Linked DNA regions of Homo sapiens. The protein of the gene in region 7 purifies or fractionates together with the protein of the main gene of each other region. This does not show direct contact. Each region holds a gene or a part of one and is shown on either strand. Other genes may lie near its edges.

Region 1 (3,500 bases), on a different chromosome or scaffold from region 7:
GGTTTTCTTCTGTCAAGAGCTTGGTGTTCAAGTCCCAGCTCCACCACCTTCTAGGTGTATGGGACCATACCTCAAGCCTCAGTTTTCATACCTGCAAAATGGAGACACCACCACCTAATTCACAGTTTCAAAGGAGGCTAAATTTAAAAATGACGTTAAATGCTTTGTAAACTATCACGGAATATGCTAATAATACTGTAAGAATGAACGAGAATTTCCCACAGAGTAAACATAAAGCAGGTCATAACAAATCATAACCAATTGAAGGTGATTCAGCAATACAGCTTTAGATTCAGAAAGACCTAGGTCCATGACTCCACTTCCTATTACGTGTGTGAATTCTTGTGAGTGAAGTAAGCTCTCCAAGTCCCAATTTCTTTCTTATTTTCCTCCTTCATCTGTAAAAGCAAGACAATAAGACCTACCTCCAAGTGTTAGTATAAGGATTAAATGAAGTAAGTATTTAAAGCTATTGTTATTATTATTCCCACAATTCACCCAGAGTAATCTTCCTATTTTATTTTTTGAAACTCTTGAACATGTTTTGTAGAATAGCACAGAATGGTCTTTCTAAATCATGTTACTCCAGGAAAAAAACAAAAAACAAAAACAAAAAAACTTTCAAAGGCTTTCCAATGCCCTAAAGATAAAGGTCCAACTCTTGCAGTAGGGTTTACAAAGCCTTTCAGAATATGGCACCTGCCCACCTCTCCAGCCTCACTTTCCACATTTTTCCTAAAATCTTATATATACACCCTATACTATACTTTCACTTTTTTTTTTTTTTTTGAGATAGAGTCTCTCTGTCACCCAGGCTAGAATAAAGTGGTATGATCTTGGCTCACTGCAACCTCCACCTCCCAGGTTCAAGCGATTCTTTTGCCTCAGCCTCCTGAGTAGCTGGAATTACAAGCGCCTGCCACCACGACTGGCTAATTTTTTTTTTTGGAGATGGAGTTTTGCTCTTGTTGCCCAGGCTGGAGTGCAATGGCATGATCTCGGCTCACCGCAACCTCCACCTCCTGGGTTCAAGCGATTCTCCTGCCTCAGTCTCCCAAGTAGCTGGGATTACAGGCATGTGCCACCAAGCCTGGCTAATTCTGTATTTTTTGTAAAGACAGGGTTTCTCCATATTGGTCAGGCTGGTCTTGAACTCCCGACCTCAGGTGATCTGCCCGCCTCAGCCTCCCAAACTGCTGGGATTACAGGCATGAGCCACTGTGCCCGGACTGTAATTTTTGTATTTTTAGTAGAGAGAGGGTTTCGCCATGTTGGCCAGCCTGGTCTCGAACTCCTGAGCTCAGGTGATCTGCCAGCCTCCTCAGCCTTCCAAAGTGCTGGGATTACAGGCATGAGCCACCGCACCCGGCCCTTTCACTTCTTTAAATGAGAGTAGCACGCACTCTCTCCCCTCCAGGCTTTCACAATCACTACTACCTGTGCAATTCCTTCCGTCCCTCACCTCCAACTCATTCTTCAGGTATAAGCCTAGAGGGCATTTCTTCTGGTATATCTTCCCTGACTCCCAAAGCACCCTATTCTTACCCCATCACAGCACTCCCCAGGCTGACTTGTAAATGTTTATGTGTCCATCTCTGGACCATATCTTTCTTATTCCTCTCTGTTTCCTTAGCATTTAGCAGTACACATGGCCACAGTAAGTGCTCCATAAAATATTTGTTGAGCAAATGAATCTTATTTAGATCATATCACAAAAAGAATTTTATATCCAAAAATTATTAGTGATCATAATGCTAGCTGCTGTTTACTGACCACCTTATATGTGCCTGACATACCACATGTGTTATCTCATTTAAATTTGGCCTTATTAATAACCCAGTTTTACTTAATCTCTGTATGCTTGTTTTCTCATCTTTAAAAGAGGCATAAAATAATTATATCTCATAAGGTTACTGAATATTAAATAAGAAATATATGCAAAAAACTTAGCATAGTGCTTAGCATATTATAAATGATCAGTAAGTAGTAGCTTTTGTTATTCTATACGATTGAGACTTCTGAGGCTCAGAGAAGTTACATCACCTGTACTGGTCACATAACTGCTAAATGGCCAAGCTGAGATTTAAATTGCAATCGTGTGCCATTCTGGTTTACTACACTCATCTTTCAGATTTTTCTTTCTCAGAAATAAATTCAAATCTAATTTTCATCAGTGCTACCACAGGGAAACAAAAGGTCATCCAGATGAGCACATGCAGGCAGTATCGAAACTAACCATCCTCACTTTTCATTCCCAACAGCATGGGATGCTGTCACTTGCCTAAGGCTCAAGATTTGACTCTGAAGAGTGAGTGATTGAGAATGAAATTGAGAGGATGCCCAGGAGAACTGCAAGGTGTCTAACATGATCACCATCACTCTATTGGTCAATATCTAAACTCAGGCAACTGAATCCTGCTTTGGCAAGATGCCCAACCAGACAGTCTGAAGGGATATACACCTACAAAACAATGAAATCCTAGATAAAATGGACTTTCAGAATGTGCTCACTAGACTCAGTAATGACAGAACCCTCCATAAACACAAAGCAAGCTAAAACCTATGAGCAACAAGCAAGTGAGGCTGCCCTGAACGCAAGCGTCCATTATGATGTGGCAAAATGGAGATGAATCTGAAACTCCCACATTAACACAACCCTCAAAAGAGACTAAAGTGATTCCACGTGAGTGGTACCCCCTGGTTTTCAGATGAATCAAATGCCAAAACTTTCTGGAGGAAAAGATTCTCCACTTTAGGCTTCCAGGATAGCCAATGAAGAAGAACAACCATTATGAGCTCACAATCATGGATCACCAAAAATGTGAGAAAAGAAGTCGCCACAAGAACACAAGCAACAAACAGATTTTGATCCCTGAGGAATTCAGATATTAGAATTATCAGCCACAAAATACAGAAATAGCTATGCATGAAATGTTTAAAGAAATAACACATGGAATCACAAAAACAGGCATGCAGCATGCAAAATAAATAGTCAAATCTGGCCAGGTGTGGTGGCTCATGTCTGTAATCCTAGCACTTTGGGAGGCCGACGTGGATGGATTGCCTGAGCTCAGGAGTTCGAGACCATCCTGGGCAACATGGTGAAACCCTGTCTCTACTACAATACAAAAAAGTTAGCCAGGTGCCGTGGTGCAAGCCAATAGTCCCAGCTACTTGGGAGGCTGAAGTAGGAGAATTGCTTGAACCTGGCAGGCAGAGTTTACAGTGAGTTGAGATCACGCCACCACACTCCAGCCTGGGTGACAGAGCAAGACTCTGTCTCAAAAAAAAAAAAAGAAAGTCAAATCTGTGAAGTCATCAAACAGAACTTCTAGAAATTAAAAATACAGTTTTGTTGAAATACAAAGTGAATGAATATGCAGTGATAAAAGGAAAGGAGTAATCAAGCCACGAAAAGACATTGAAGAACCTTAAACATATACTAAGTGGAAAGAGCAATTTGAAAAGGCTATATACTACATAATTCCAATTACATGACA
Region 2 (3,500 bases), on a different chromosome or scaffold from region 7:
AGGCTGAGGCGGGAGAACCGCTTGAACCCAGGAGGCGGAGGTTACAGTGAACCAAGATCACTGCCACTGCACTCCAGCCTGGGTGACAGAGTGAGACTCCATCTCAAAAAAAAAAATAAATAAATAAATACAATGACAATCTCTGGAGGTGGGTTACCATCATGTGTTTTCATCTTTTATGACTATTTCAGGTCAGCTCTATGGCTCTTCCACATGATTCAAACGAAACTTCCTATTTGCTGCCTCCCAACAATGAGGACTGGGGCAGGCAAACCATTCCTGACTTTGTTTATGGGCAGAAGGATCTCATGGCAGAAGGGATTCAGTGGCCAAGGAATGCACCTGGCATCCCAGATGCTCTGCCACAATCTCCCTTTGATGCTGCACTCTGCTCTGCCTGGAAGCAGCGGGTGGAGCTGGGGCTGTTTCGCTACCGTCTACGGGAGCTACAGACCCAAATCCTCCCTGGTGCTGTGGGTTTCGTGGCTCAGCTGAATGTGGAGCGTGGTGTGCAGAGGAGGCCCCCGCAGACCATCAAGAGTGTGAGGCAGGCATTTGACCCTGTACAGTTCAACTTCAACAAGATCCGGCCCGGAGAAGTCCTCTTCCGTTTGCACCGGGAGCCTGATCTCCCTGGGACTCTGCTGCAAGAAGACATCCTGGTGGTGATCAACGTCAGCCCCCTGGAGTGGGGCCACGTGCTGCTGGTGCCTGAGCCTGCCCGCCAGCTCCCCCAGCGCCTGCTGCCGGGTGCACTGAGGGCAGGGATTGAGGCTGTGCTGCTGAGCTTACACCCGGGCTTCCGTGTCGGCTTCAACAGCCTGGGAGGCTTGGCCTCGGTGAACCACCTCCACCTGCATGGCTATTACCTGGCCCACAGACTGCCCGTGGAGCAGGCGCCAAGCGAGCCCCTGGACCCTGGAGGCCATTTGCATCTGCTCCAGGACCTCCCAGCTCCTGGCTTCCTCTTTTACACTCGTGGGCCAGGGCCTGACTTGGAGTCCTTGATAAGCAGGGTATGTCGGGCCACTGATTATCTGACTGACCATGAGATTGCTCATAACTTGTTTGTCACCCGGGGAGCTCCGCCGGGAAAGACATCACCTTCCTCAGCCCTCACAGGGGTCCGAGTAATTCTGTGGGCCCGGAAGTCCAGCTTTGGGATAAAGGACGGTGAAGCTTTCAATGTTGCCCTCTGTGAGCTGGCTGGGCACCTCCCTGTCAAAACATCCCAGGACTTCAGCAGCCTGACAGAGGCAGCTGCTGTGGCCCTCATTCAGGACTGTCGGCTGCCCCCATCCCAGGCAGAAGACGTACAGGCAGCACTGGTGGCCCTGATGTCCCAGGAAGAGCAATAATACTTCTGGATGTATTTATGTTCTTTTTTTCTTTTCTTTTGAGATAGGGTCTCACTCTGTCCCCAGGCTAGAGTGTAGTGGTATGATCCTGGCTCACTGTAGCCTCCACCTCTGGGGCTGAAGTGATCCTCCCACCTCAGCCTCTTGAGTAGCTGAGACTATAGGCGTGCACCACCACACACCTGGCTTTTTTTTTTTTTTTTTTTTTTTTTAACGATTAGGTGATTTTGTATTTTTTTATATAGACAGCGTTTCACCATGTTGCCCAGGCTGGTCTTGAACTCTTGGGCTGAAGCAGTCCTCCCACCTCGGCCTCCCAAAGTACTGAGATGACAGGAGTGAGCCCCTGGATTCTTTTCTGTTTCTTTTTTTTTTTTTTTTTTTTTTTTTTTTTTTGAGATAGTCTCGCTCTGTCACCTAGGTTGGGGTGCACTGGTACAATCTCGGCTCACTGCAACCTCCACCTCTAGGGTTCGAGTGATCCTCCTGGCTCAGCCTCCCGAGTAGCTGGGACTATACAGGCTCCTGCCACCAAACCCGGCTAATTTTTTTGTATTTTTAAAAGAGAAGGGGTTTCACCACATTGGCTAGGCTGGTCTTGAACTCCTGACTTTAGGTGATCCGCCCGCCTCGGCCTCCCAAAGTGCTGGGATTACAGGCGTGAGCCACCACACCCAGCCAGGATGTATTCATTTTCTACCTGATGAGTCCCTTTCCAGAGCACTGTCCATCATAGTCCTTTGGACATTTATTTTCATGGCTGCCTTCTCACCTGTCTCAGCCTAAGAAGAAGGATGAAGAAAGCTGATAATGATCTCTTAAAGGGGAGAAAGATAATGGTCTCTTTAAAGGGGAGCTGATAGTGGTCTCTTTAAAGGGGAGAAAATCTGGAATAATTCTACTGAGTAAGACATCATGAATGTATCTGCTACCTCTCCCCGTTCTTGTTCAAGCCCCAGGGGTGTTAAAAAGGAGTGTGTGTGACAGTTACACACTCCTGACTTTACATTTAGATTTTGTCTTCCTTTGATATCAAATGTTAGCACGGTAATAGTGCCTGTGCCTCCAGTATTGAGCTGCCACTTCTGTTCTCAGCCTGTTTATTCCCCTTTGCTCACCACTTATTTTTATTGCTTTGTCCCTTCTTTCCATTTAGCCCTGCTCCACCCAAATGCCCCACTCCTTCACTTTCCCTGCCACCTTGAGCTTTCCTCTAGCCCCCAACACCAAGTTGAATGCTCTTCACTGACATCATCTGATGTAAAAACACAGTGTTGTCACAACTTTCCGGGTGCACGTCTTTTTTTGTTTTGTTTTTTTGTAAGGCTGGGGTGCAGTGGTGCAATCACAGCTCACTGCAGACCCAAACTCTTGGTCTCAAGCCACCCTCCCACCTCAGCCCCCTGAGTAGCTGGGACGATAGGTGTGCACCATCACACCTGGCTAATTTTTAAATTTTTTGTAGAGATAGGGTCTTGCTATGTTGCCCGGGTTGCTGTCAAACTCCTGGCCTTAAGAAATCCTCCCACCTCGGCCTCCCAGAGTGCTAAGATGCCACCACACCTTGGTGCAGGTTTTTTTTTTTTTTTTTTTTTTTTTTTTTTGACACAGGGTCACTGTCACCCAGGCTGGAGTGCAGTGGTATGAAGACAGCTAACTGCAAGCTTCAACCTCCTGGGCTCAAACAATACTCCCATCTCAGCCTCCCTAGTAGCTGGGACCACAGGCATGCGCCACCACACCCGGCTATTTTTTTGGAGAGATAGCATCTTGCCAAGTTGCCCAGGCTGGTCTCGAACTCCTGGCCTCAAGATCCTCCCACCTCAGCCTCCCAAAGTGCTGAGATTATAGGCATGAGCCACTGCACCTGGCCTGAGTTTTTTTTTTTTTTTCTTGAATCAGAGTTTCACTCTGTTGCCCAGGCTGGAGTGCAGTGGTGTGATCTCGGCTCACTGCGTCTCTGCCTCCTGGGTTCAAGCAATTCAGCCTGAGTCTTCTTAATACCCCCATTCAAAACGGGATGGAGACTGACAGTTTGTACTTTGTTCAAGGTCAGGCAGCTGGAGTCGGGACTGCAGCACAGGCAGGTACCAGAAGATGAGCTGGGACAATGTGTGCTTGTGACCGCCTCTCCAGTCAGTG
Region 3 (3,500 bases), on a different chromosome or scaffold from region 7:
CAGGAAGAAGAAGAAATTTGCCAAGCAGATGTTGTGGGACAAAAAGAATAATTTATTAGAGGTAACAGCTAGCACAAGATGACTTCATTAGCAAACACAATGGTGTAGCGGAAAACCAACCAACCAACCCTCATCCAAGTTCAGGAAAACTGAATTTAAATTTCAATCTCAAATAGCACTATGATACTGGTCAAGGGCTTTCACACTTAATTTTTCCTTATCTATAAAATAAGGGAGCTGGACTAGTTGCTCTGTAAGTAATCTTGCTTCTAAACAAATTTATGAGGATGCTGATTAGTAACAACAGCTAATATTTACTAGCACTCACCATATGCCAGGCACAATGGTACACAGTTTACACTTATTATGTAGGTATTACAATCATTCCCATTTTCACCAATTGAAGAAACTCAAGTTCTGAGTGCTTAATTCACCCAAAGTGTCTAGTTAGTAAGAAGGCCAGACCTGGAAGATCTAATTCCAAAGCCAACACATTTAGCCTCTATGCTATGGTTTCACCAATAATGCAATTCCAAATCCCTAAAGGACAGTGCCATAATGAGCGTCTATTGTACTATGTTTAAAGTGTTTACTACCTACAATTTTTTTGTGGTTGAGATGGAAGTCTTGCTATGTTGCCCAGGCTGGTCTTGAACTCCTGGGCTCAAGTGATAGATCCTCCTGCCTTGGCCTCCCAAAATGCTGGGATTACAGACATGAGTCATCATGCCTGGCCTACAATTTTTTTTTAATACCTCCATTTTTCAGTATTTTTCAGATACTTACTTTAGGCCTAAGTATCAAAATGCTCATTCTTTTTTATATGTCAAATTGAAATCTTCCTAAAATATGTTATACATGTCTCTGACTTTGTAAATAAGAGAAAAGTAACCAAGTTTAAACTTTTCGTGAAGCTCAAGGTTACGCTTATACATATTAATTATTGCCTGAGGCCTCTGAAACTTTAAGGTAAATATGGCTCTTTGCCCTTCACTTTCTTGGGTCAGCTTCTTACATTTTGGTTTCTTTTCTTTCAGTAATCACAGCTCCTCTTTACACTGGTAATTTTCTGTGGACTGAAAAAAAAAATCAAGCTTCTAAGCTTATCAGAATTATTTAGTAAAGATATAGCTGCAAAAAAATTACTTTCAGCCATTTTTCTTATTACAAGGTGGCCTGTGATGTAATACCATAAACTAACTTTCATCACCAATTTTGCTGTGATTTGATTATCTAAACACACTTCCTCTGTTTTGAATCTTTGATATGGCACATTCTCACAGTGCATGACATCCTCCTAAGATGATTCATAAAGAATTAAAAGTTAAAGTATTATGTCCCACAGATCACACGATCCCAGCATTCCAGAAAAAAAAAAAAAAAGCTTAATGCTTATTAAAAGATACAGGTTAAGTTTTAGGTAGGTTCAAATCATCCTAATATTTTTCTTGAGATTATGGGAAAAAAAATTTTAAGGAATCACCTGCAAAAATCCTAAAGAGAATGTGAGAGGGAGATACTAAAACCTATTTTGAAACCACACATCATTAAATCAGTTTGGTATAGATAGAAAAAGAGCAAGAAATCTGTTTATGATAAAGATGATGGTTCAAATTATTAGTAAAGAGGAACTACATTGTTCAATTCCCACCTATGAGTGAGAATATGTGGTGTTTGGTTTTTTGTTCTTGCGATGGGGATTATCACACTCTGGGGACTGTTGTGGGGTGGGGGGGGGGGAGGAGGGAGGGATAGCATTGGGAGATATACCTAATGCTAGATGACGAGTTAGTGGGTGCAGCGCACCAGCATGGCACATGTATACATATGCAACTAACCTGCACAATGTGCACATGTACCCTAAAACTTAAAGTATAATAAAAAAAAAAAAAAAGAAAAAAAAAAGAATGTCAGAAATTACTAGAAAAAATATTAAACAAAATAATATTTACTTAATACAGATAAGAAGTTTTAAATATGATTTATTGAACATTTCACCTTAGAGCTTCTCAGTCTTACCAATTTAGCCATTCTAATAGTTATAATGTAGTATCTCATTGTGGATTTAATTTGCATTTTCCTAATATCTGTTATAATATATACCACTTAACGTGCAAAAAAAAAAAGAGGAACTATAATAATAAATGGTATGAGAACTGTCAAAAAAAAAGTATACACTTATTTCATGCCTTACTTCAAAATAAATAATGGAAAGGTCAAATGTCCAAAATGGAAGAAAAAATGAAGTTCCAGAAGAGCAAATTTATTTGTAATTTTACAGAAGAGAAAAGGTCTTTGTAAACAGGATACAAAATCCAAGTCACAAAAGAGAAAAAAAGCGATACATTTAACCCCACAAAAAGTAAAAGACCATTGTAGAATAAGAAAATAAATGAAGTCAAGAGATTAACTGGGAACGATATTTGCAAAACATGATAAAAAACTGATTTCCCTAATTTATAGAGTTTATACAAACCAATAAAAAACAGACCAACTAAAAGAAAAATAAACAAAAGACATAAACAATCATTTTTCACCTATCCAAATGGCAAAATCTAAAAAGTCTGATGATGCCCAGTGCTGTTGATGGTGTGAGGGAACCATCGGTCTCATGTCTGCCAATGTGTGCCTAAGCTGACGAAACTCATGAAGAGAGTAATGCAGATATAGTCTCAAAAGTTGTCAAGGTATATGTACAAAGGTGATCACGACAATCCTGTTTAATTGCAAAGATGCACTGGAAACAAAATGTTTATCATACGGGAATAGTTAAATAAACATCCAGAAAATGGAATACTATTCACCATTTAAAAAGGGAAGAATAAATACATTTCAATGTGGAAAGCAAAGTGCAGAAGTGTTTACAGAACTTTTTAAGCGGGAAAAACAGATGAGTAAGTAAATTTTCAATGTTTTTCTGAAATTAATTACATGGACCTGTTGAGAATGGCTGATTTGTTCACAGGCATTGGGGAGGGGAGATCTTTACCTTTCAGTCCTAACTGTGGCATTTTAAAATCCACATCTGAATTAATTTAATTTTACTTTTTAAAAGTTAGGAGTTATCTAAATAGTAAAATTTTGGCCAATTTTTGTCTTCTTTATTCTTTTCTGTTTTAAAAACACCTAATCAATTTTATATTTTAAAGAGAGGAACCACATAGGTAGGAAAAATAGTCAATGGGATATTTTACTTTATTCAATACAGCTTTGCTTTTTTAAATAACAAGCTCATAATATTGTTATAATTTCTATCAGTTTTAATTCATTAAATTTTTAATTATCTGCACTAATAAAAGGAAAATGTTTAGAATCTCAAACCAAAACACTTTATATAGCCTATGTACATCTGAATGAACATTTATGTTCCAATGTAAAAAAAGATCTTCCTCTATTTTATATATTTTTTAAAATGACTAAAAGCATTAATAATTAGAAAAGAATCTATACTAATGTTTCTCTGTCTACTGAGGGCACCTGTATCTTATACAAGCTGACAT
Region 4 (4,273 bases), on a different chromosome or scaffold from region 7:
CAGGGTCAGGGCTGGCACCAAGGAGGCCTGATGATTCCCATCAGGATACCCTTTCCCCTAATCATCCTGTCTCACTCTTTCTACAAAGTTTAACACCAATTTTTTTTTAAGTATTACATCAATCATTTATTCTGATTTTACTGAATGACAGTAAAGAGAAACCATTTACAGACATGAAGCTCGAAAATGTTCTACCTCCCAATGCACTAGTATTTCAGAGACTTGGAATATATTTGGAGATGTGGAAAATGATTACACTTTAGTAACACTGAGTAACAATTTTAGGCCAAGTATACTACACTCATATTTTTTTTGAAGTGAGACATTAGTCCACCCTAGTACTGCATACAGACACACTGAGTAATAAATATCCAATCTGTGATCATCTTTATAAAGGGCAATTTATTCGTTGCTTTCCCCTTACCCCATTCGCCCTAGAGTGGCTTCGTTTCACTTTGCCCTACCCCTTCTAGCAGGTAGTAAACAGTCCTGGCCAGTGATGCCATCTGGCGGTTAGTTCAGAAATTGTTTAACCAACACACCTTCCAATCAGGATCTTACCATCGGGACCCTCTCCAAAACCACACTCCCCTTTCTTCCAGTTTTTGCCCATTTACCTTAGTAAAATCGGGTTTTCTTCTTTCCTGCCCTGTTTATCCAACTGAATGAAAAACGTATTTTATTTGTGGCACTCTAGTTACAGAAAAATCATGAGTCCTAAGTACATTTGCAGCTAAAGAAACAAACCAACAATAAGAGGCCAACATACTCCCAAAAATGCCCCCATTCGACATCCTGTCTTAACAGAGACTGTTAGAATCTCCGTTATTCATCCAATGCCTTCAGGGAATACCAGTGCTGAGAAGGACCTTGAGGATCATCGTTTCAAGGTCAAAAGCTTCATTTTACAGCTGAAGAAACTGGCTCTGTGAGAAAGAACTGAAGTAACCACCCACCCAACAGCACACAGCGAGTTAACGGCAGAGCCAAGATTATGGCCTAGGACTCCCCATTCCAAATCCGGTACTGGGTCAACTACTCTGTGCGCTCCTGGCTTCTCAAGCCTGTTTTTGCTCAACCAGTGTATTTACTTTTTCCATAATTATAGTAATATTGTGAATCTCTGTACTATGCCTAACAGTGTCTAGCACACTTCATAAATATTTATTATTTGGGTATCTATTAATTACCGTACTTATTGCAAATCTAGAATACTTGCAGTAGACAGGCCTTTTTTCAATCTGCTTAAAAAGCGAACTGCCACTTCATAATTTTTTCTGACTATTCCCATTAATCATCACATGGTAACCTTTTAGAACATAATCCATTCAGAAATTTGAGACTTCCTGTTCACCTGATCAGTCTTAACCAAAGATAGAAGAAAATATGTGGCATAGGGTGAAAACTGCAACCAATTTTGAAGAAAATAGAAATTCTAGTACTAGTTGCATTATAATCACACGACTTTAGGCAAACTCTTCTTTCCCACAAAATAATCCTCGACCCTAAACTCATGTAGCATAACTGCAAATCTCTCATAAATTACAAATATCTATAATGATTATCGGTATTAACAATAGTAATTTATATTTTAGGCCCTGTGACTAATCAGTTTACATATATAATGTCATGTAATACTTGCAGCCCTATTTTACGGATGAGAAAAAACAAGGCTTAGCAACTTAAACTCGTCCGGGGTCACAGAGTTAAGACGTGAAGAACTCGAGGGCCTGCTTAGAACTGAAAGCCTCCAGAGCCAGTGCTCCGAAAAGGGGAGCGATAATGCAAGGCCCACTTTGATACTACCACTCCAAGGCTCTGCAGTCAGTGGGGAGTGAAGGCAAGCGACCGACATCGCTATTTTCTGTTACGGTTAACGTACACAGTGAAACAATGGGGTACACGGAACAATGAGTCACGAAGACCTGGGTCCTTTCTCTGAGCTCGGCAACTCAGGGACCCCCCCGAAGTCGCTTAGCCTTCTGGGCTTGTTCAGCTTGGGGAGGAAAAGGGGCTGCTCCGGAACCAACGAGGCTTTGGATGGTGGATCACACTCAGGGTGTAAACTTGTGCGTACCAAGTCAAGCTTCTGGGGAAAGAACCTTCATCAGAGTCCCTCCAAAAAAAGAAGACGCGCTGGATTAGGCATCCGCAAAGTTCCGCCTGCCTCTCCGACGTCAGGGAGCTCCCGCAGTAGGAGGTTTCTTACGCCTCTAGGAAGGCCGGCGTGTGGGCGGGCTCTGCCTTCCCTTCCTCACTGAGTTGTGTGAACCGGGAACGGCGGCCGGGCCGGCTAATGGCTGCAGGCCGCCGCGGGGTGGCCGCTTGCACTCTGCCTACCCCTCGGGGAGGGCGGCTGGCAGGGCACAGGGCGCTATCTACCCCCCAGCCGGCAGCCCTGCGCCTCTGCTCTCCGCTTTGGGGTCTTGATCCGCCGCCTCCTCGCTGGCAGTTCTCGTGACTCGGTGCGCGCTCCCGCGGGAAGTAAGGTGGCCTGGACCGCGCGGCTACCGCTGAGGGCCCCAAAAAGAGAGAAGGGAGACCGCGCGGGGCGTCCCAAGTGTCCCCCATTCCATCCCCCACCCAGGTTTCTCCGGTGCGCCGCTCGGCGAACCTCCGGGAGCTACTTACTAAAGAAGAGGCGGTAATTCTGCGAGCAGGGCTGGCCGCGCTCCTCAGTGTGGTACAGGGCCATAGCACGGCGCGACCCGGTCCCTGCACTGGTCCCCAACCGCAGGCACGCAGCGGCTGGGGCACCCGTGCGCAGCAGCCGCAGCAGCGCGCTCATGGCGTCAATGACGGTCCTGCTGTGCGCGCGGAGCTACCTGGGGGCTCGGCCGGGCCGCACGCCGGTGCCCCCTACCGTCCGGAGTCATCCCTCCCGCCCCGGCGCTCGGGCTGCGATCCTGGTCCCTGCCAGTGGAATCTGGAACACCAGCCAGTTGTGCGCACTATGCCCTCAGCGAGGCCGCAGCTCAAAGACGAGTGAGACAAGACCCACCACCCCTGAAGAGCTCACTGCCACTCGTTAATTCATACATTTATTCATGCCTTCATTTATCCCGTCAAGAATTACTATCATGATTTTTTAGTATAGTGATGTAATATTGAGTGATTACTCTGTGCCAGGAACTGCTCTAGACCCTGTCCAATATAGGAGATGAGCGCACATGCACGCAAAGACATCACTATAAGACAAAATGATCAGGCCACCACGTGAAAACGGGACGTTGACACCGACTTACAGAGCAAAAAACCCTAAGTAGCTTACTCAAATGCCATCTTCTCCATAAGGCCATTTCCTAACCCAGTAGAGATTATTTATTCTTTCTTTTATTTTATTATTTTTTGTTGTTGTTTTGTTTTTGAGACGGAGTCTCACACTGTTGCCTGGGCTGGAATGCAATGGTACAATCTCGGCTCACTGCAACCTCCGCCTCCTGGGTTCAAGCTATTCTCCTGCCTTAGCCTCCTGAGTAACTGGGATTACAGGCATGCGTCACGACGCCTAGCTAATTTTTGTATTTTTAGTAGAGACAGTTTCCCCATGTTGGTCAGACTGGTCTCGAACTCCCGACCTCCATTGATCCGCCTGCGTTGGCCTCCCAAAGTCCTGGGATTACAGGCGTGAGCCACCGCGCATCGGCCAGGCGGGGTGGCACACACGCCTGTAGTTCCAGCTACTTGGGAGGCTGAGATAGGAGGATGGTTTGGGCCAGTATCCAGGAGAATGGATATTGTAGAACAACCAGTAGTCTGCCACGTGTCATTTTATTTTTTTCTAGTCCATCTTCTTTGGGACTATCATCATCTAGGCTACTTTCCTACTGGGCACCCAGGTTCTTTCAGCATCTCCAATTATCGTGTGATCATTAAAATTGAGATACTGGTCTACCCAAGTTCCAGAAAGGATTCCTAGGAGATATTGTGACTAGCTACTTAGAGACACTCTACTAAGATTATAGATCCTAAAATGTTTTTGTCAACAGTGGTACCTTTGTAATGTGTCAACTTGAATAGGCATAACTATAAGGCAAATGCTCCCATAAAAAGGAGAGAAAATCTCTTCTGTGCATATATCACAGAGTTGTATAATTTTTTTGTTTATGTTGAAAAAAAGCTTAATTTTTCTATTAACTTTTGAAGATTAGATATTTAAATAAGACAAATTCCTATGGAGGCAGGGTTGTAGGCTAATTTCTAATGATCTGTGGATACTTAAAGTATCCAGGCTGGGCGTGGTGGCTCATGCTTGTAATTCTAGCACTTTGGG
Region 5 (3,500 bases), on a different chromosome or scaffold from region 7:
CAGGAACATGCCACCACGCTTCAGCCTGGGTGAGAACAGCTTGGAAAACATAACAAGACCTTGATATATCTCAAAAATAAATAAACATATATGTATATATGTGTATATGTGTGTGTGTGTGTATATATATATATAAAATGATGTAAACATATAATGATGTAGGAAAATACAATATAGTAAGTTAAGATTTCAAAAATCAGGTATTAAAACAATATCAGTTTTGTTTTTAAAATATATAAATATGCATAGAAAATCAAAAAGTATATATTCTGTAATAATAAAAGCTCTCCCTCTGAGGAATAGAAATGATTGTTGATGTTCATTTCTTTTAAACACTTTACTTTTCTATTTTCCAAATTTGTTATAATCAGTGCTTATTATTTATAAAGTAAGAAAAATGGTAGGAGGCCAGATGAGGTGGCTAATGCCTGTAATCCCAGCACTTTGGGAGGCCGAGGTGGTAGGATTGCTTGAGTCTAAGAGTTCAAGACCAGCCTGGTCAATATTGTGAGATCCTGTCTCTACAAAAAATAAAAATAAAAATAAATTAGCCAGGCTTGGTGGCCCACACCTGTGGTTCCAGCTACTCAGGAGGCTGAGGTGGGAGGGTCACTTGGGCCCAGAAGATTGAGCCTGCAGTGACCTGTGATCCTGCCTCTGCACTGCAGCCTGGGCAACAGAGTGAGACCCTGTCTCAAAAAAAGAAAAGAAAAAGGGTGGGAAAAGTATTAAATTTTACTTCAGAGTGAGAATCTTGGTTTAGTTAAAGGAGAGAATTTTCTAATGATAATTTTCAGTGGGTTCAAGAAAAGAAAAAGCAGCTTTTTAACTCATCTGTTTATTTGTGTCTAAAGATAAGGATACAGAATAATTTACTTCTCAAAATTTCTTCTAAGCTCGAGTTCATAATTGTTATTATTCCTTATTTCTTCTTTCAACCAGAGTTCTATATACCCCTGGCCACACTGATGATCACATGGCTCTACTCTTAGAAGAGGAAAATGCTATCTTTTCTGGAGATTGCATCCTAGGGGAAGGAACAACGGTATTTGAAGACCTCTATGATTATATGAACTCTTTAAAAGAGTTATTGAAAATCAAAGCTGATATTATATATCCAGGTGGGTAATTTTTAAATTTTTTTATATTTTTATGTTTTTAAATAGAGACAAGGTCTTGCTATGTTTTCCAGGCTGTTCTCAAACTCCTGACCTCAAGCAGTCCTCCCACCTCAACCTCCCAAAGCGCTGGGTATACAGGCATGCCAAAGTGGGTAGTTTTTCAAACCTAGCAAACCATTTGTGTCAAATGATGAGGAAGGTTCATTTTGGCTTGTCTCTGTATGTATTTGGCCTTGAAGAGATAACATATAAGGCCAGGCTCAGTGGCTCACACCTGTAATCCCAGCACTTTGGGATGCCAAGGTGGGCAGATCATGAGGTCAGGAGTTCAAGACCAGCCTGGCCAACATGGTGAAACCCCATCTCTACTAAAAATAAAAAAATTAGCTGAGTGTGGTGGCGCACACTTGTAATCCCAGCTACTTGGGAGGCTGAGACAGGAGAATCGCTTGAACCTGGGAGGTGGAAGTTGCAGTCAGCAGAGATTGCACCACTGCATGCCAGCCTGGGTGACAGAAGCAAGACTCTGTCTGGGGGAAAAAAAAAACATATCAACTACTTCTTTAAAATATACCCCTCTTTGAGAGGCCTAGGTGGGCAGATCACCTGAGGTCAGGAGTTCGAGATCAGCCTGGCCAACATGGTGAAACCCTGTCTCTACTAATAATACAAAAATTACCCAGGCGTGGTGGCAGGTACCTATAATCCCAGCTACGCGGGAGGCTGAGGCAGGAGAGTTGCTTGAACCTGAGAGGTGGAGGTTGTAGTGAGCCAAGATCCGCCATTGTACTCCAGCCTGGGCAACAGAGCGAAACTCTGTCTCAAAAAAAAAAAAAAAAAAAAAAAAAAAAAAAAAGGAAAATACACCCCTAAGTCCTGTCTAGCTGTGCAGTTAAACTTAAAGAGAAGGCCAAGAGCCATATTAATAACTTTTGATAAAGATATGAGGGTTATTTTTCAACATACAGTTATTAATAGAACTGTTAAAAAGACATAAACTTACATTGAAATGGGAAAATGTTTTCATTCCATAAACCACTGTTATTTTTGTTAACTTGATTTTTATTTGGACCACATTTTAGCTGTGTAACTTTGGGTAATGTTTGACCTCTGAGCTTTAGTTTTTTTAATTTACAATATTGAAATACCAATAGCTTCTATATCAACTATAAAATGGTATCTTTATTTCCATTCTCCAGAAAAAGAAACATGTTAGTGTCTCAGATCTCACTAGACTGTTCTACAATATCAATCTCTCCTTCATCTGAAGAGCTAAGAAATGGCCAGGCGCAGTGGCTCACGCCTGTAATCCCAGCTCTTTGGGAGGCCAAGGCAGGCAGATCACCTGAGGTCAGGACTTCAAGACCAGCCTGGCCAATATGGCAAAACCCCATCCCTACTAAAAATACAAAAATTAGCCAAGCGTCTTGGTGGGCACCTGTAATCCCAGCTTCTCAAGAGGCTGAGGCAGGAAAATCACTTGAACCTGGGAGGCAGAGGTTGTAGTGAGCAGAGATCACGCAACAGAGTGAGACTCCTTCTCAAAAAAAAAAAAAAAAAGCTAAGAAAGACACAGGACCCAATAAAAAGGCCCAAAAGGAAAAAGGGACTAGGTCACTTAACTTCCTAAGTTCTTCTAACTTGCGATTAACCAAGCCATTGAAAGATCCGTCCATCCAGTATCTTCAACACATTTACACTCTGCGATGAGTTCCTACTGCTGGGGGAATAGAAAACATACGGTAGAGCTGGGCATTTAGATTTATATGATGACATTAAAGGATTGCGGGCTGATAGCTTTGGGGGGGTTTGTTTGTTTGTTTTGCTTTGTTTTTGCTAAAGACAGCTATTTTTAAAGCGAAGAGGGCAGACGTTGAGTGAATTCACATTCAAGCTAAGCTAATGAGAGGCTACCTAGTAAAGATTCTAGAGTGCTTTAGTGAATCCAGTGAACTGGCTTACTAGCACAGCAGTTGTTTATATGTAAATTATGCTCTGTAGCCATAGCTACCATATATTAAAGTCTTCTAGCCATCAGGTTTTGTGCAGGGGCCTTTACAGTTGTCATCCTCACCAAAACCCATGTAAAGTAGGTAGTGGTTTCCTCACCACACAGCAGAAGAAACAGCTTAGAGAGATTCAGATACTTCCTCATTTATTAGCCACACAGCAAATAAATGATAGGTCTGTGTCTAACCAGATCCCGTAATAGGTTAGCCTGCTTCTGGATATTTTGTTCTCAAATATTTAAGAACATCATTCTTGCAGACTTATATAATATATAATATTAATGTGTACTGTCTTAAAGGGGAAGTAAATTATAGTATAACTTAATCTGGGTTGTCAAAATTTCTGACATACAGAAGCCTATACATAGGA
Region 6 (3,940 bases), on a different chromosome or scaffold from region 7:
GAGCGCTAAGCTAGTGAAGTGAAGCTGGGCCCACAGGCAGAAGACACCAGTTCGCCCAGCTGCTGCCAGGCAGGGGTCCAGGCTCCAGCCTTGCCAAGGGCGTCGTCTGCACAGCTGTGCCTACACTCGCCCAGCACAGGGCACAAGGCACACGTGGCACATCAATCGCCAAAAACTCTGGGAGTTTTTGCGTCCTCAGAAGGGGGAGAGCCACACCTTCTGAGGATCCCACCAAACTACCACAAGACCCTGGTCTCCATCCCCTCCTCGGCCCCAAACCCCATCCCCGATGCCCAGGAATTGGGGAGCTCGTGCCTCACTTCCAACTCCCAGGAATGGGGGGTGCTGGAGTCCCACCTCTGGCTCCTGGGTTGGGGATCTCCCCCTTTCCTCGCAAGCAGCAAGTGGCAGGTGTGTCTCTTCACCACAGGGCCCTGACAACGATCAGACACCAACAGATGCAACCCAGCACAGAGCAGACAGCAGACGCTGGTGGGCCCCAACCCCGCCTGTTTCCTCCACAGGTGTTGCCCCTGCACCACCCTTACCCCGCCAAGCCCAGGCTCCCAGGCCTCCCCTCCTCCCTCCTGAGGGAGCAGTAAGCTATTGAGGTGAGGCTGGGCCCGCAGGCAGAAGACACCAGTTCACCCAGCTGCTGCCAGGCAGGGGTCCAGGCTCCAGCCTCGCCAAGGGCGTTGTCTGCGCAGCTGTGCCCACTCTCGCCCAGCACAGGGCACGAGGCACACATGACACACCAATTGCCAAGAACTCTGGACGGGCCAACACTCCGCTCTTCCTGGGTCCCCTGAGTTCGGCTCTGCCCAAGCGTGAGGGCACAATGAGCAGACTACTGGGGGCCCTGGCCAGCCAGAGAGTGCAGAGGGCAGACAGTGAGTGGATGCGGGCCTTGCAGAAGCACAGCCACACCACCACCGCTGGAGACAGGGCGGAGGCACAGGCTGCCTGCCTGCCTGGGGAGAGACCAGTGGCAGGGCGGTCACCAAAGCCACCTTCCATGGAGCACACCCAAGGGAGAAAACTGTGGCCCAGGCCTCAAGGCTCCTGCAATCTTGCGGTGGAAACCACGGAGCCTTTGCCCTGACCAGAACACATGCGCCAAAGGTGTCTTCCTGTGGGCAGAGGGAAGCATTCCAGCAAACATTCTGTGCTCTCCACTCTCACCAACCCACAGTCGCAAACTCCAATCAGCTGCCTGGCAAGAAGCCACACAACCCACAACTGTAAGGACCTGCCAGGCACGTGGTCTCCACAGGAGCTCCGAGATGGAAGGTCTCCTGGGAGCCGCCGGCGCAGATCCATGTTCCGGAATGGTCTCTGCCAGAACGCTCCCTGGACTGGGCTCCCATGCTGCCCCAGCAGCCGCTTTCCTGGAAAGGCACTCCCTGCTGTGGCGGCATAATCTCCTCCTTCTGGCTTCCAGCCATCCTAAGGACTGAACAGAGTCACCACCTTGCCCCCGGCCCACTGTTCGAGGAGATGCTAACAGAGGGCTTGACCTTCTGAGAACCGAGAGAATTCAGCCCCCGCCTGGCCTCTCGTAAGACACAAACCACCAGACGTGGGCCTGGGCTCTGGGCTGGGCCAGGTGGATGAAGGGGAGGCTGGTGGTCCAGGCGGCTGCTCTTGGCTGCAGGGTTTCTGGGCACACATCCGGGTAGCACGCATCCTGGCCTTCAGCAACCTCGTTTTAAATGGGACCACACCAGGAGCAGCCAGGGCGCTTTCATTTTCACTTTCTTTCCCCGGGGGGGACAGGAACATTCCTTTACCTCCTGAGGAAATCGGGCTCTTCCAGAGCCACAGAGGAGTGAAGGCCCCAGCCCTTCACGATGCTGCGCGGCTATGTTTGGGTCTGTCCATCAGGGAGAAAGAAAAACCGGCCGAGTCTTGCACAGGGTCCTCGACAGCAACCCCAGGTAAAGAGCAGAGCAAGCCTGAGACAGGAAGGGGCCATGAGCCCAAAGACAGCAGAGCAGGACCCAGCCCGGGGCCTCAGGACCGACCTCTTTCATGCAAAGACGAAACCGAGGCCCACCACACGCAGGGTCAAAATCAACTTTGAGGCACCTGCTTCCCACACCAGTCCTTACTGGGGCATACTTCTAAGGCGACGCTCAAGAATGGCAGCAGGGCAGCTTCAAGAACCCCAACCCGGACTCTGGCTTTGGAGAATCCGAACCCCAAATGCCACACCCATGCGTCGGGAAGGCCTGCTGTTTCCCCAAGTCCCCGTCTCTGCGCCGTGCCGCGGAGTAGGCAGAATCCTGGGAGCCCCGGAATAGCCGGCTCCATCCGCCCAGGACCCCAAGGCTTGCAGGGTGAGGTGGGAACCGGAGCGCACACCGCGCCGGGCCAGCGGTAGGGACTCCCAGCTGCTCTCTTTGGCGGCGCGCCCAGGTGTCGGGAAGACACCGAGCGCTCCTATACGCCCGGGGAGCAGCTCGACACTGCGATAACTGCCGGCCTGCCCAGCTCCTGAGGAGCGCCCCGCCCTCCGGGACCCGGGCTCCGCTGCGTTGCCAGCCCGTCCGCCCTCCAGAGCTCCCCCGTTCTCAGGGCCCACAGTTGAATGCGGCACAGGGCGTCTCGGCTAGGAGGAGATCCGGAGGCGGCGTGGACTGGGCGACCGCAAAGCGCAGGGACCGCTGCCGCCTCGACCCGAGTCACCCTCGCGATCGCGCTTGTCGTACTCACCGTCCGGTGGGGCCCGGCCCAGGGCGGCCGCAGCCAGCCCGGCCAGCGGGCGCCGCAGCATCCGGGGCCACCTCTTCCGCCCACTGAACCTACGTGACAGCGCCGCACCGGCCCACCTCCGCCCGCGCGCGAGACTGACGTCATGAGGCGACTGCCCCGCCCATGTCTCACTCGTTCTTCCCCGCCCCTTAGGGAAGTACTTACCTCAGTGCCTCGCTAGCCCCGCCTCCACCTGCGCTGGCCTGTCGCGACCGCAGGGGCGTTCAGCACAGCGCCCTCCCAGCCCGTCTTCTCCCGCTGCGTCACAGCGCCACGCCGGCCCGCCTCCACACAGCGCGAACTAACATCACGACCCGCCGGCCCCGCCCACGGCGTACTTGTCCCGCTTGTCACTCAGAGAAGTACCTCAGTGCAGCGCGGGCCCGGCTTTCATCTGCTACGTCACAGCGCTGCCTCAGCCCGCCTCCTCCCGCTTATGTCACAGCGCCGTTTCCGTCCTCCATCTACACTGCAGGGACCTAACTAACGAACGACTCCGCTAGCCCGTTCCAAACCGGCCACTCTCCAAAAACCATTAATTGGGGAATGTGGCCGGGCGCGTGGTTCACGTCTGTGATCCCAGCTCTTTGGGAGTCCGAGCCGGGAGGACCGCTTGAGGCCAGGAATTGGAGACCAGCCTGGGGATCATAGGGAAACCCCTTCTGTACCAAAAAATTTAAAAACTTTTTTGTGCCTGTAGTCCTTGCTACTCGGGAGGCTGACGTGGGACGGTCGCTTGAGCCTGGGCAGTCGAGGCTGCAGTGAGCGGTGTTCGTGTCACTGCACTCCAGTCTGTGTGACAGAGCGAGACCCTATTTCTTTCTTTTTTTATTTTTTGAGACGGAGTTTCGCTCTTGTCACCCAGGCTGGAGTTCAGTGACGCCATCTCTGCTCACTGCAACCTGGGCCTCCTAGGTTCAAGCGATTCTCCTGCCTCAGCCTCCCGAGTAGCTGGGATTACAGGCGCCCGCCACCACGCCCAGCTAATTTTTGTATTTTTAGTAGAGACAGGGTTTCACCATGTTGGCCAGGCTGGTCTTGAACTCCTAACCTCAGGTAATCCACCAACCTTGGCCTCCCAAAGTGCTGGGATTACAGGCGTGAGCCACTGCACCTGGCCACGGGACTCTATTTCTAAAAATTATTTTAAATTTTTAAAAAAGATTTATTGAAGGCTGGGTGCAGT
Region 7 (2,837 bases):
TTCAAAATACCATTCAACTCTTCATTGTTCATAAGAATCTTATTTGAAGATCTAAATGGTTGGGGGTGTTTTCTGTGTGAATCTGTCCTCGAAAAAGATTTAAATGTTTCTCATTCATTTATAGTCATGGAAATGTTAGAGTTTCACTGTGAAGGCCTTATTATGTGAGACCTTCCCCAAAGAGAGTTCTTCCTTTTATATCAGTTGTATTCTATTCCAAATAAACTGCTTACAATTCAATCTTTTAGAGATAGGGTCTTGCTATGTTCCGTAGGCTGGAGTACATTGGCATAATCATACCTTACTGCATCCTCATACTACTGGGCTCAAGCAATCCTCCCACCTCAGCCTCCCCAGTAGTTGGGAATACAGATATGTACCACTACACCCAACTAAAATTTGGATTGTTATTTGAAAAAATGGTATTCTATTTTTTAAAACTCAATCCATGCTTGTGAAGCAAAATATGTAGACTTCGAATAGAACCTAACAGATTATAGTTCTCTGTCATAAAGTCTATGTGGTTTAATGATAAAAGGTTAATTTAAAAATTTTGTAAAGTATAAAATAAACAATTTTATTAGATGAACTCATTTATTTGACATATTAAATTAGACAAAGAAATATATATGTAACCAGATAAAAACAATCACATTCTCATACTACTTGAACACATAGCAGTGGTCAAAAATAATGGATTGTAAAATGGACCCCAGGATTTAATGCAAAAACCACCCCATACGAGAAAAGTTTCAGGCTTCTAACTTCACTGAATCCAGTACTAAACGTGCTTCTTTATATTCCTCAGCTTCTTCCAAGTCTTTTTCATTTTCCTAAAATGAAATACAATAAAAATTAAGTTTATCCTTTTCAAGTTTCAGTACTTTGTTATTTACTCAAATATTACAAACCATTAATGTTAATAACTAAAAAATTAAAAGTAAAAAATCCCAAGCCTCATCTAAATATATTGTAATTCCACAGGTTTCCCACATTCTGTTCCTTCTTTACAAGGAAAGGAAGAAATAACTGGTGGTTTTGTTTCACTGTATATATTCTCATAAAATAAGTGAATAACAGTCTTCTAAAGCTACCAGCATTAATTAAATAAAAACCTCAGAAAAAGTTTATTCTCATTTTGTTGACCCATCATCATCATACAAAAGAGAAAAGTAAAAAGGAAGATTTACTAACATGTTACATATATGACAGCATTCAGGCCAAAATAATCCACTGACTATTCACAATGACAAAGAAGGCTTCTGATGTCACAACAGAGTTAAATATAATCTTTGAATTAAACAAATGAATTGCCTGCTTGCTAATGGGTATTACATACCCTACACTAAAGGAAACAAAATACATCTTTCATTTTCTGATATTTAAAGATTGAGTTTTTCCATAATACTGATATACAGGCAACTTTTACTAATATATTGTAATGATAACAGACAAATGAAATAATATTATCTAAAGTACACAGGAAATTTTGTTTGATTTTTAAATGAAGCTATGGTTAGCAATTTATGTCAGGTCAATAAAAGATGGAGATATACAAACAGTAGAGGAAATAAAGTATGTGTGTATTTAATATGAAAACTGAAAGCAAAACGACTGAGAATTTGCTTAGCTCAAACTATACGTAAGAATTTCTTAAACCTCCATGTTATACCTTAAACACATCTTTGTTCTCTGTTAGTAAATACAAGCTCTTCAAGGGCAGAGATATTGTTGAATACATCTTCACATACAAATATATCATCCAAATACATTATTATTATTATTATTATTTTGGTATTTTTAGTAGAGACAGGATTTCACCATGTTGGTCAGGCTGGTCTTGAACTCCTGACTCGTGATCCACCCACCTCAGCCTCCCAAAGTGCTGGGATTACAGGCATGAGCCACTGCACCTGGCGGCCAACATTATTTTTTTCCAAGCAATTTCTATTACTTTCTCAGCTACTAGATTCATGAGAGAAAAAAGCATTTAAACTGTCAAGAAATACAAATGATGCTTCCTGTCTTAGATAGTATTTTAACAGTTATTATTTCCTGCTTTATCTACCTTCTGTATCACAAGGCATTTATACCAGCAAGTATAAGTGTTATTCAGCTCCAAGTTAGTATGAGGGGACTACATAGATTACCAGGTTTTTTCCCCCTCTCAAACTGATCTAGGTTTGAATGTGAAAGAATTCAAGATCCTTTTAATAAGATCCCAAATTCTTTTGAAACATTAGATCTTTTAAAATTTTAATCAGTCAACTCATCCTCAATGTCTCAAAAGATCTTTATGTATGAAAACCAAATAATCAAGACATTGCTGGACAATACTGGTACTATCATAACTTAAATAAATTTAACTAGCTAAATTTTAATAAACTGAACAAACATGCTAGAAAACAGTACTTTTACTGGAGGCATAATTCAAAACACAATTTAAACTCCATTAATTATTTTAAAATATAGCGGTATAAAGGGCAAGTGAATAAGAAATACTGCCAACTAGTTCTCAGTGTTAAATATTTAAACTTTTGGCTTTCCATGTATTGGATTGAAAAAAAAAATTTAAACATGACACAGAAGTCTTTGCTTACTAGTATCCGTTGAAGATCCAAATATGCGGCTTCCAACCTGCGCTGGCAATCTGGGATCATCATCCTGGATTCTTGTAGGATCTCTGCCTAGAATGAGAATCTCTGTGAGACGTTCAAAGATGGCAGAACTTGTAGGTGTTTAGCTCATATCTTGGTAAGTATATCCTTATTAAGAGGAATCAGAAAAAAGTTATGGTTATGTTAAATGGTTCAATATTTTAACTTAAATTGTATTTA

The links.
Region 1: the proteins of TBCA (region 7) and TXNDC12 fractionate together in Homo sapiens (co-fractionation; one large-scale study listed by BioGRID). This does not show direct contact.
Region 2: the proteins of TBCA (region 7) and GDPGP1 fractionate together in Homo sapiens (co-fractionation; one large-scale study listed by BioGRID). This does not show direct contact.
Region 3: the proteins of TBCA (region 7) and MTPN purify together in Homo sapiens (affinity purification with mass spectrometry, with the first as the bait; one large-scale study listed by BioGRID). This does not show direct contact.
Region 4: the proteins of TBCA (region 7) and PPA2 fractionate together in Homo sapiens (co-fractionation; one large-scale study listed by BioGRID). This does not show direct contact.
Region 5: the proteins of TBCA (region 7) and LACTB2 fractionate together in Homo sapiens (co-fractionation; one large-scale study listed by BioGRID). This does not show direct contact.
Region 6: the proteins of TBCA (region 7) and GUK1 fractionate together in Homo sapiens (co-fractionation; one large-scale study listed by BioGRID). This does not show direct contact.

Annotation. Positions count from the first base shown.
Region 1 is NC_000001.11:52,041,692-52,045,191, forward strand, and holds part of TXNDC12 (thioredoxin domain-containing protein 12 precursor), read right to left. Parts: intron 1-3,500. UniProt on the Homo sapiens protein: Protein-disulfide reductase of the endoplasmic reticulum that promotes disulfide bond formation in client proteins through its thiol-disulfide oxidase activity.
Region 2 is NC_000015.10:90,240,709-90,244,208, forward strand, and holds part of GDPGP1 (GDP-D-glucose phosphorylase 1), read left to right. Parts: intron 1-191; 5' UTR 192-200; coding exon 201-1,358; 3' UTR 1,359-3,500. UniProt on the Homo sapiens protein: Specific and highly efficient GDP-D-glucose phosphorylase regulating the levels of GDP-D-glucose in cells.
Region 3 is NC_000007.14:135,967,360-135,970,859, forward strand, and holds part of MTPN (myotrophin), read right to left. Parts: intron 1-3,500. UniProt on the Homo sapiens protein: Promotes dimerization of NF-kappa-B subunits and regulates NF-kappa-B transcription factor activity. Plays a role in the regulation of the growth of actin filaments.
Region 4 is NC_000004.12:105,471,263-105,475,535, forward strand, and holds the start of PPA2 (inorganic pyrophosphatase 2, mitochondrial isoform 1 precursor), read right to left. Parts: upstream 2,801-4,273; 5' UTR 2,789-2,800; coding exon 2,632-2,788; intron 1-2,631.
Region 5 is NC_000008.11:70,641,686-70,645,185, reverse strand, and holds part of LACTB2 (endoribonuclease LACTB2), read left to right. Parts: intron 1-942; coding exon 943-1,121; intron 1,122-3,500.
Region 6 is NC_000001.11:228,139,139-228,143,078, reverse strand, and holds the start of GUK1 (guanylate kinase), read right to left. Parts: upstream 2,801-3,940; 5' UTR 2,777-2,800; coding exon 2,716-2,776; exon of another isoform or gene 1,446-2,715; coding exon of another isoform or gene 1,250-1,445; intron 1-1,249. UniProt on the Homo sapiens protein: Catalyzes the phosphorylation of GMP to GDP. Essential enzyme for recycling GMP and indirectly, cyclic GMP (cGMP). Involved in the cGMP metabolism in photoreceptors. It may also have a role in the survival and growth progression of some tumors.
Region 7 is NC_000005.10:77,690,666-77,693,502, forward strand, and holds the end of TBCA (tubulin-specific chaperone A), read right to left. Parts: intron 2,688-2,837; coding exon 2,601-2,687; coding exon of another isoform or gene 2,457-2,600; exon of another isoform or gene 834-2,456; coding exon 753-833; 3' UTR 501-752; downstream 1-500. UniProt on the Homo sapiens protein: Tubulin-folding protein; involved in the early step of the tubulin folding pathway.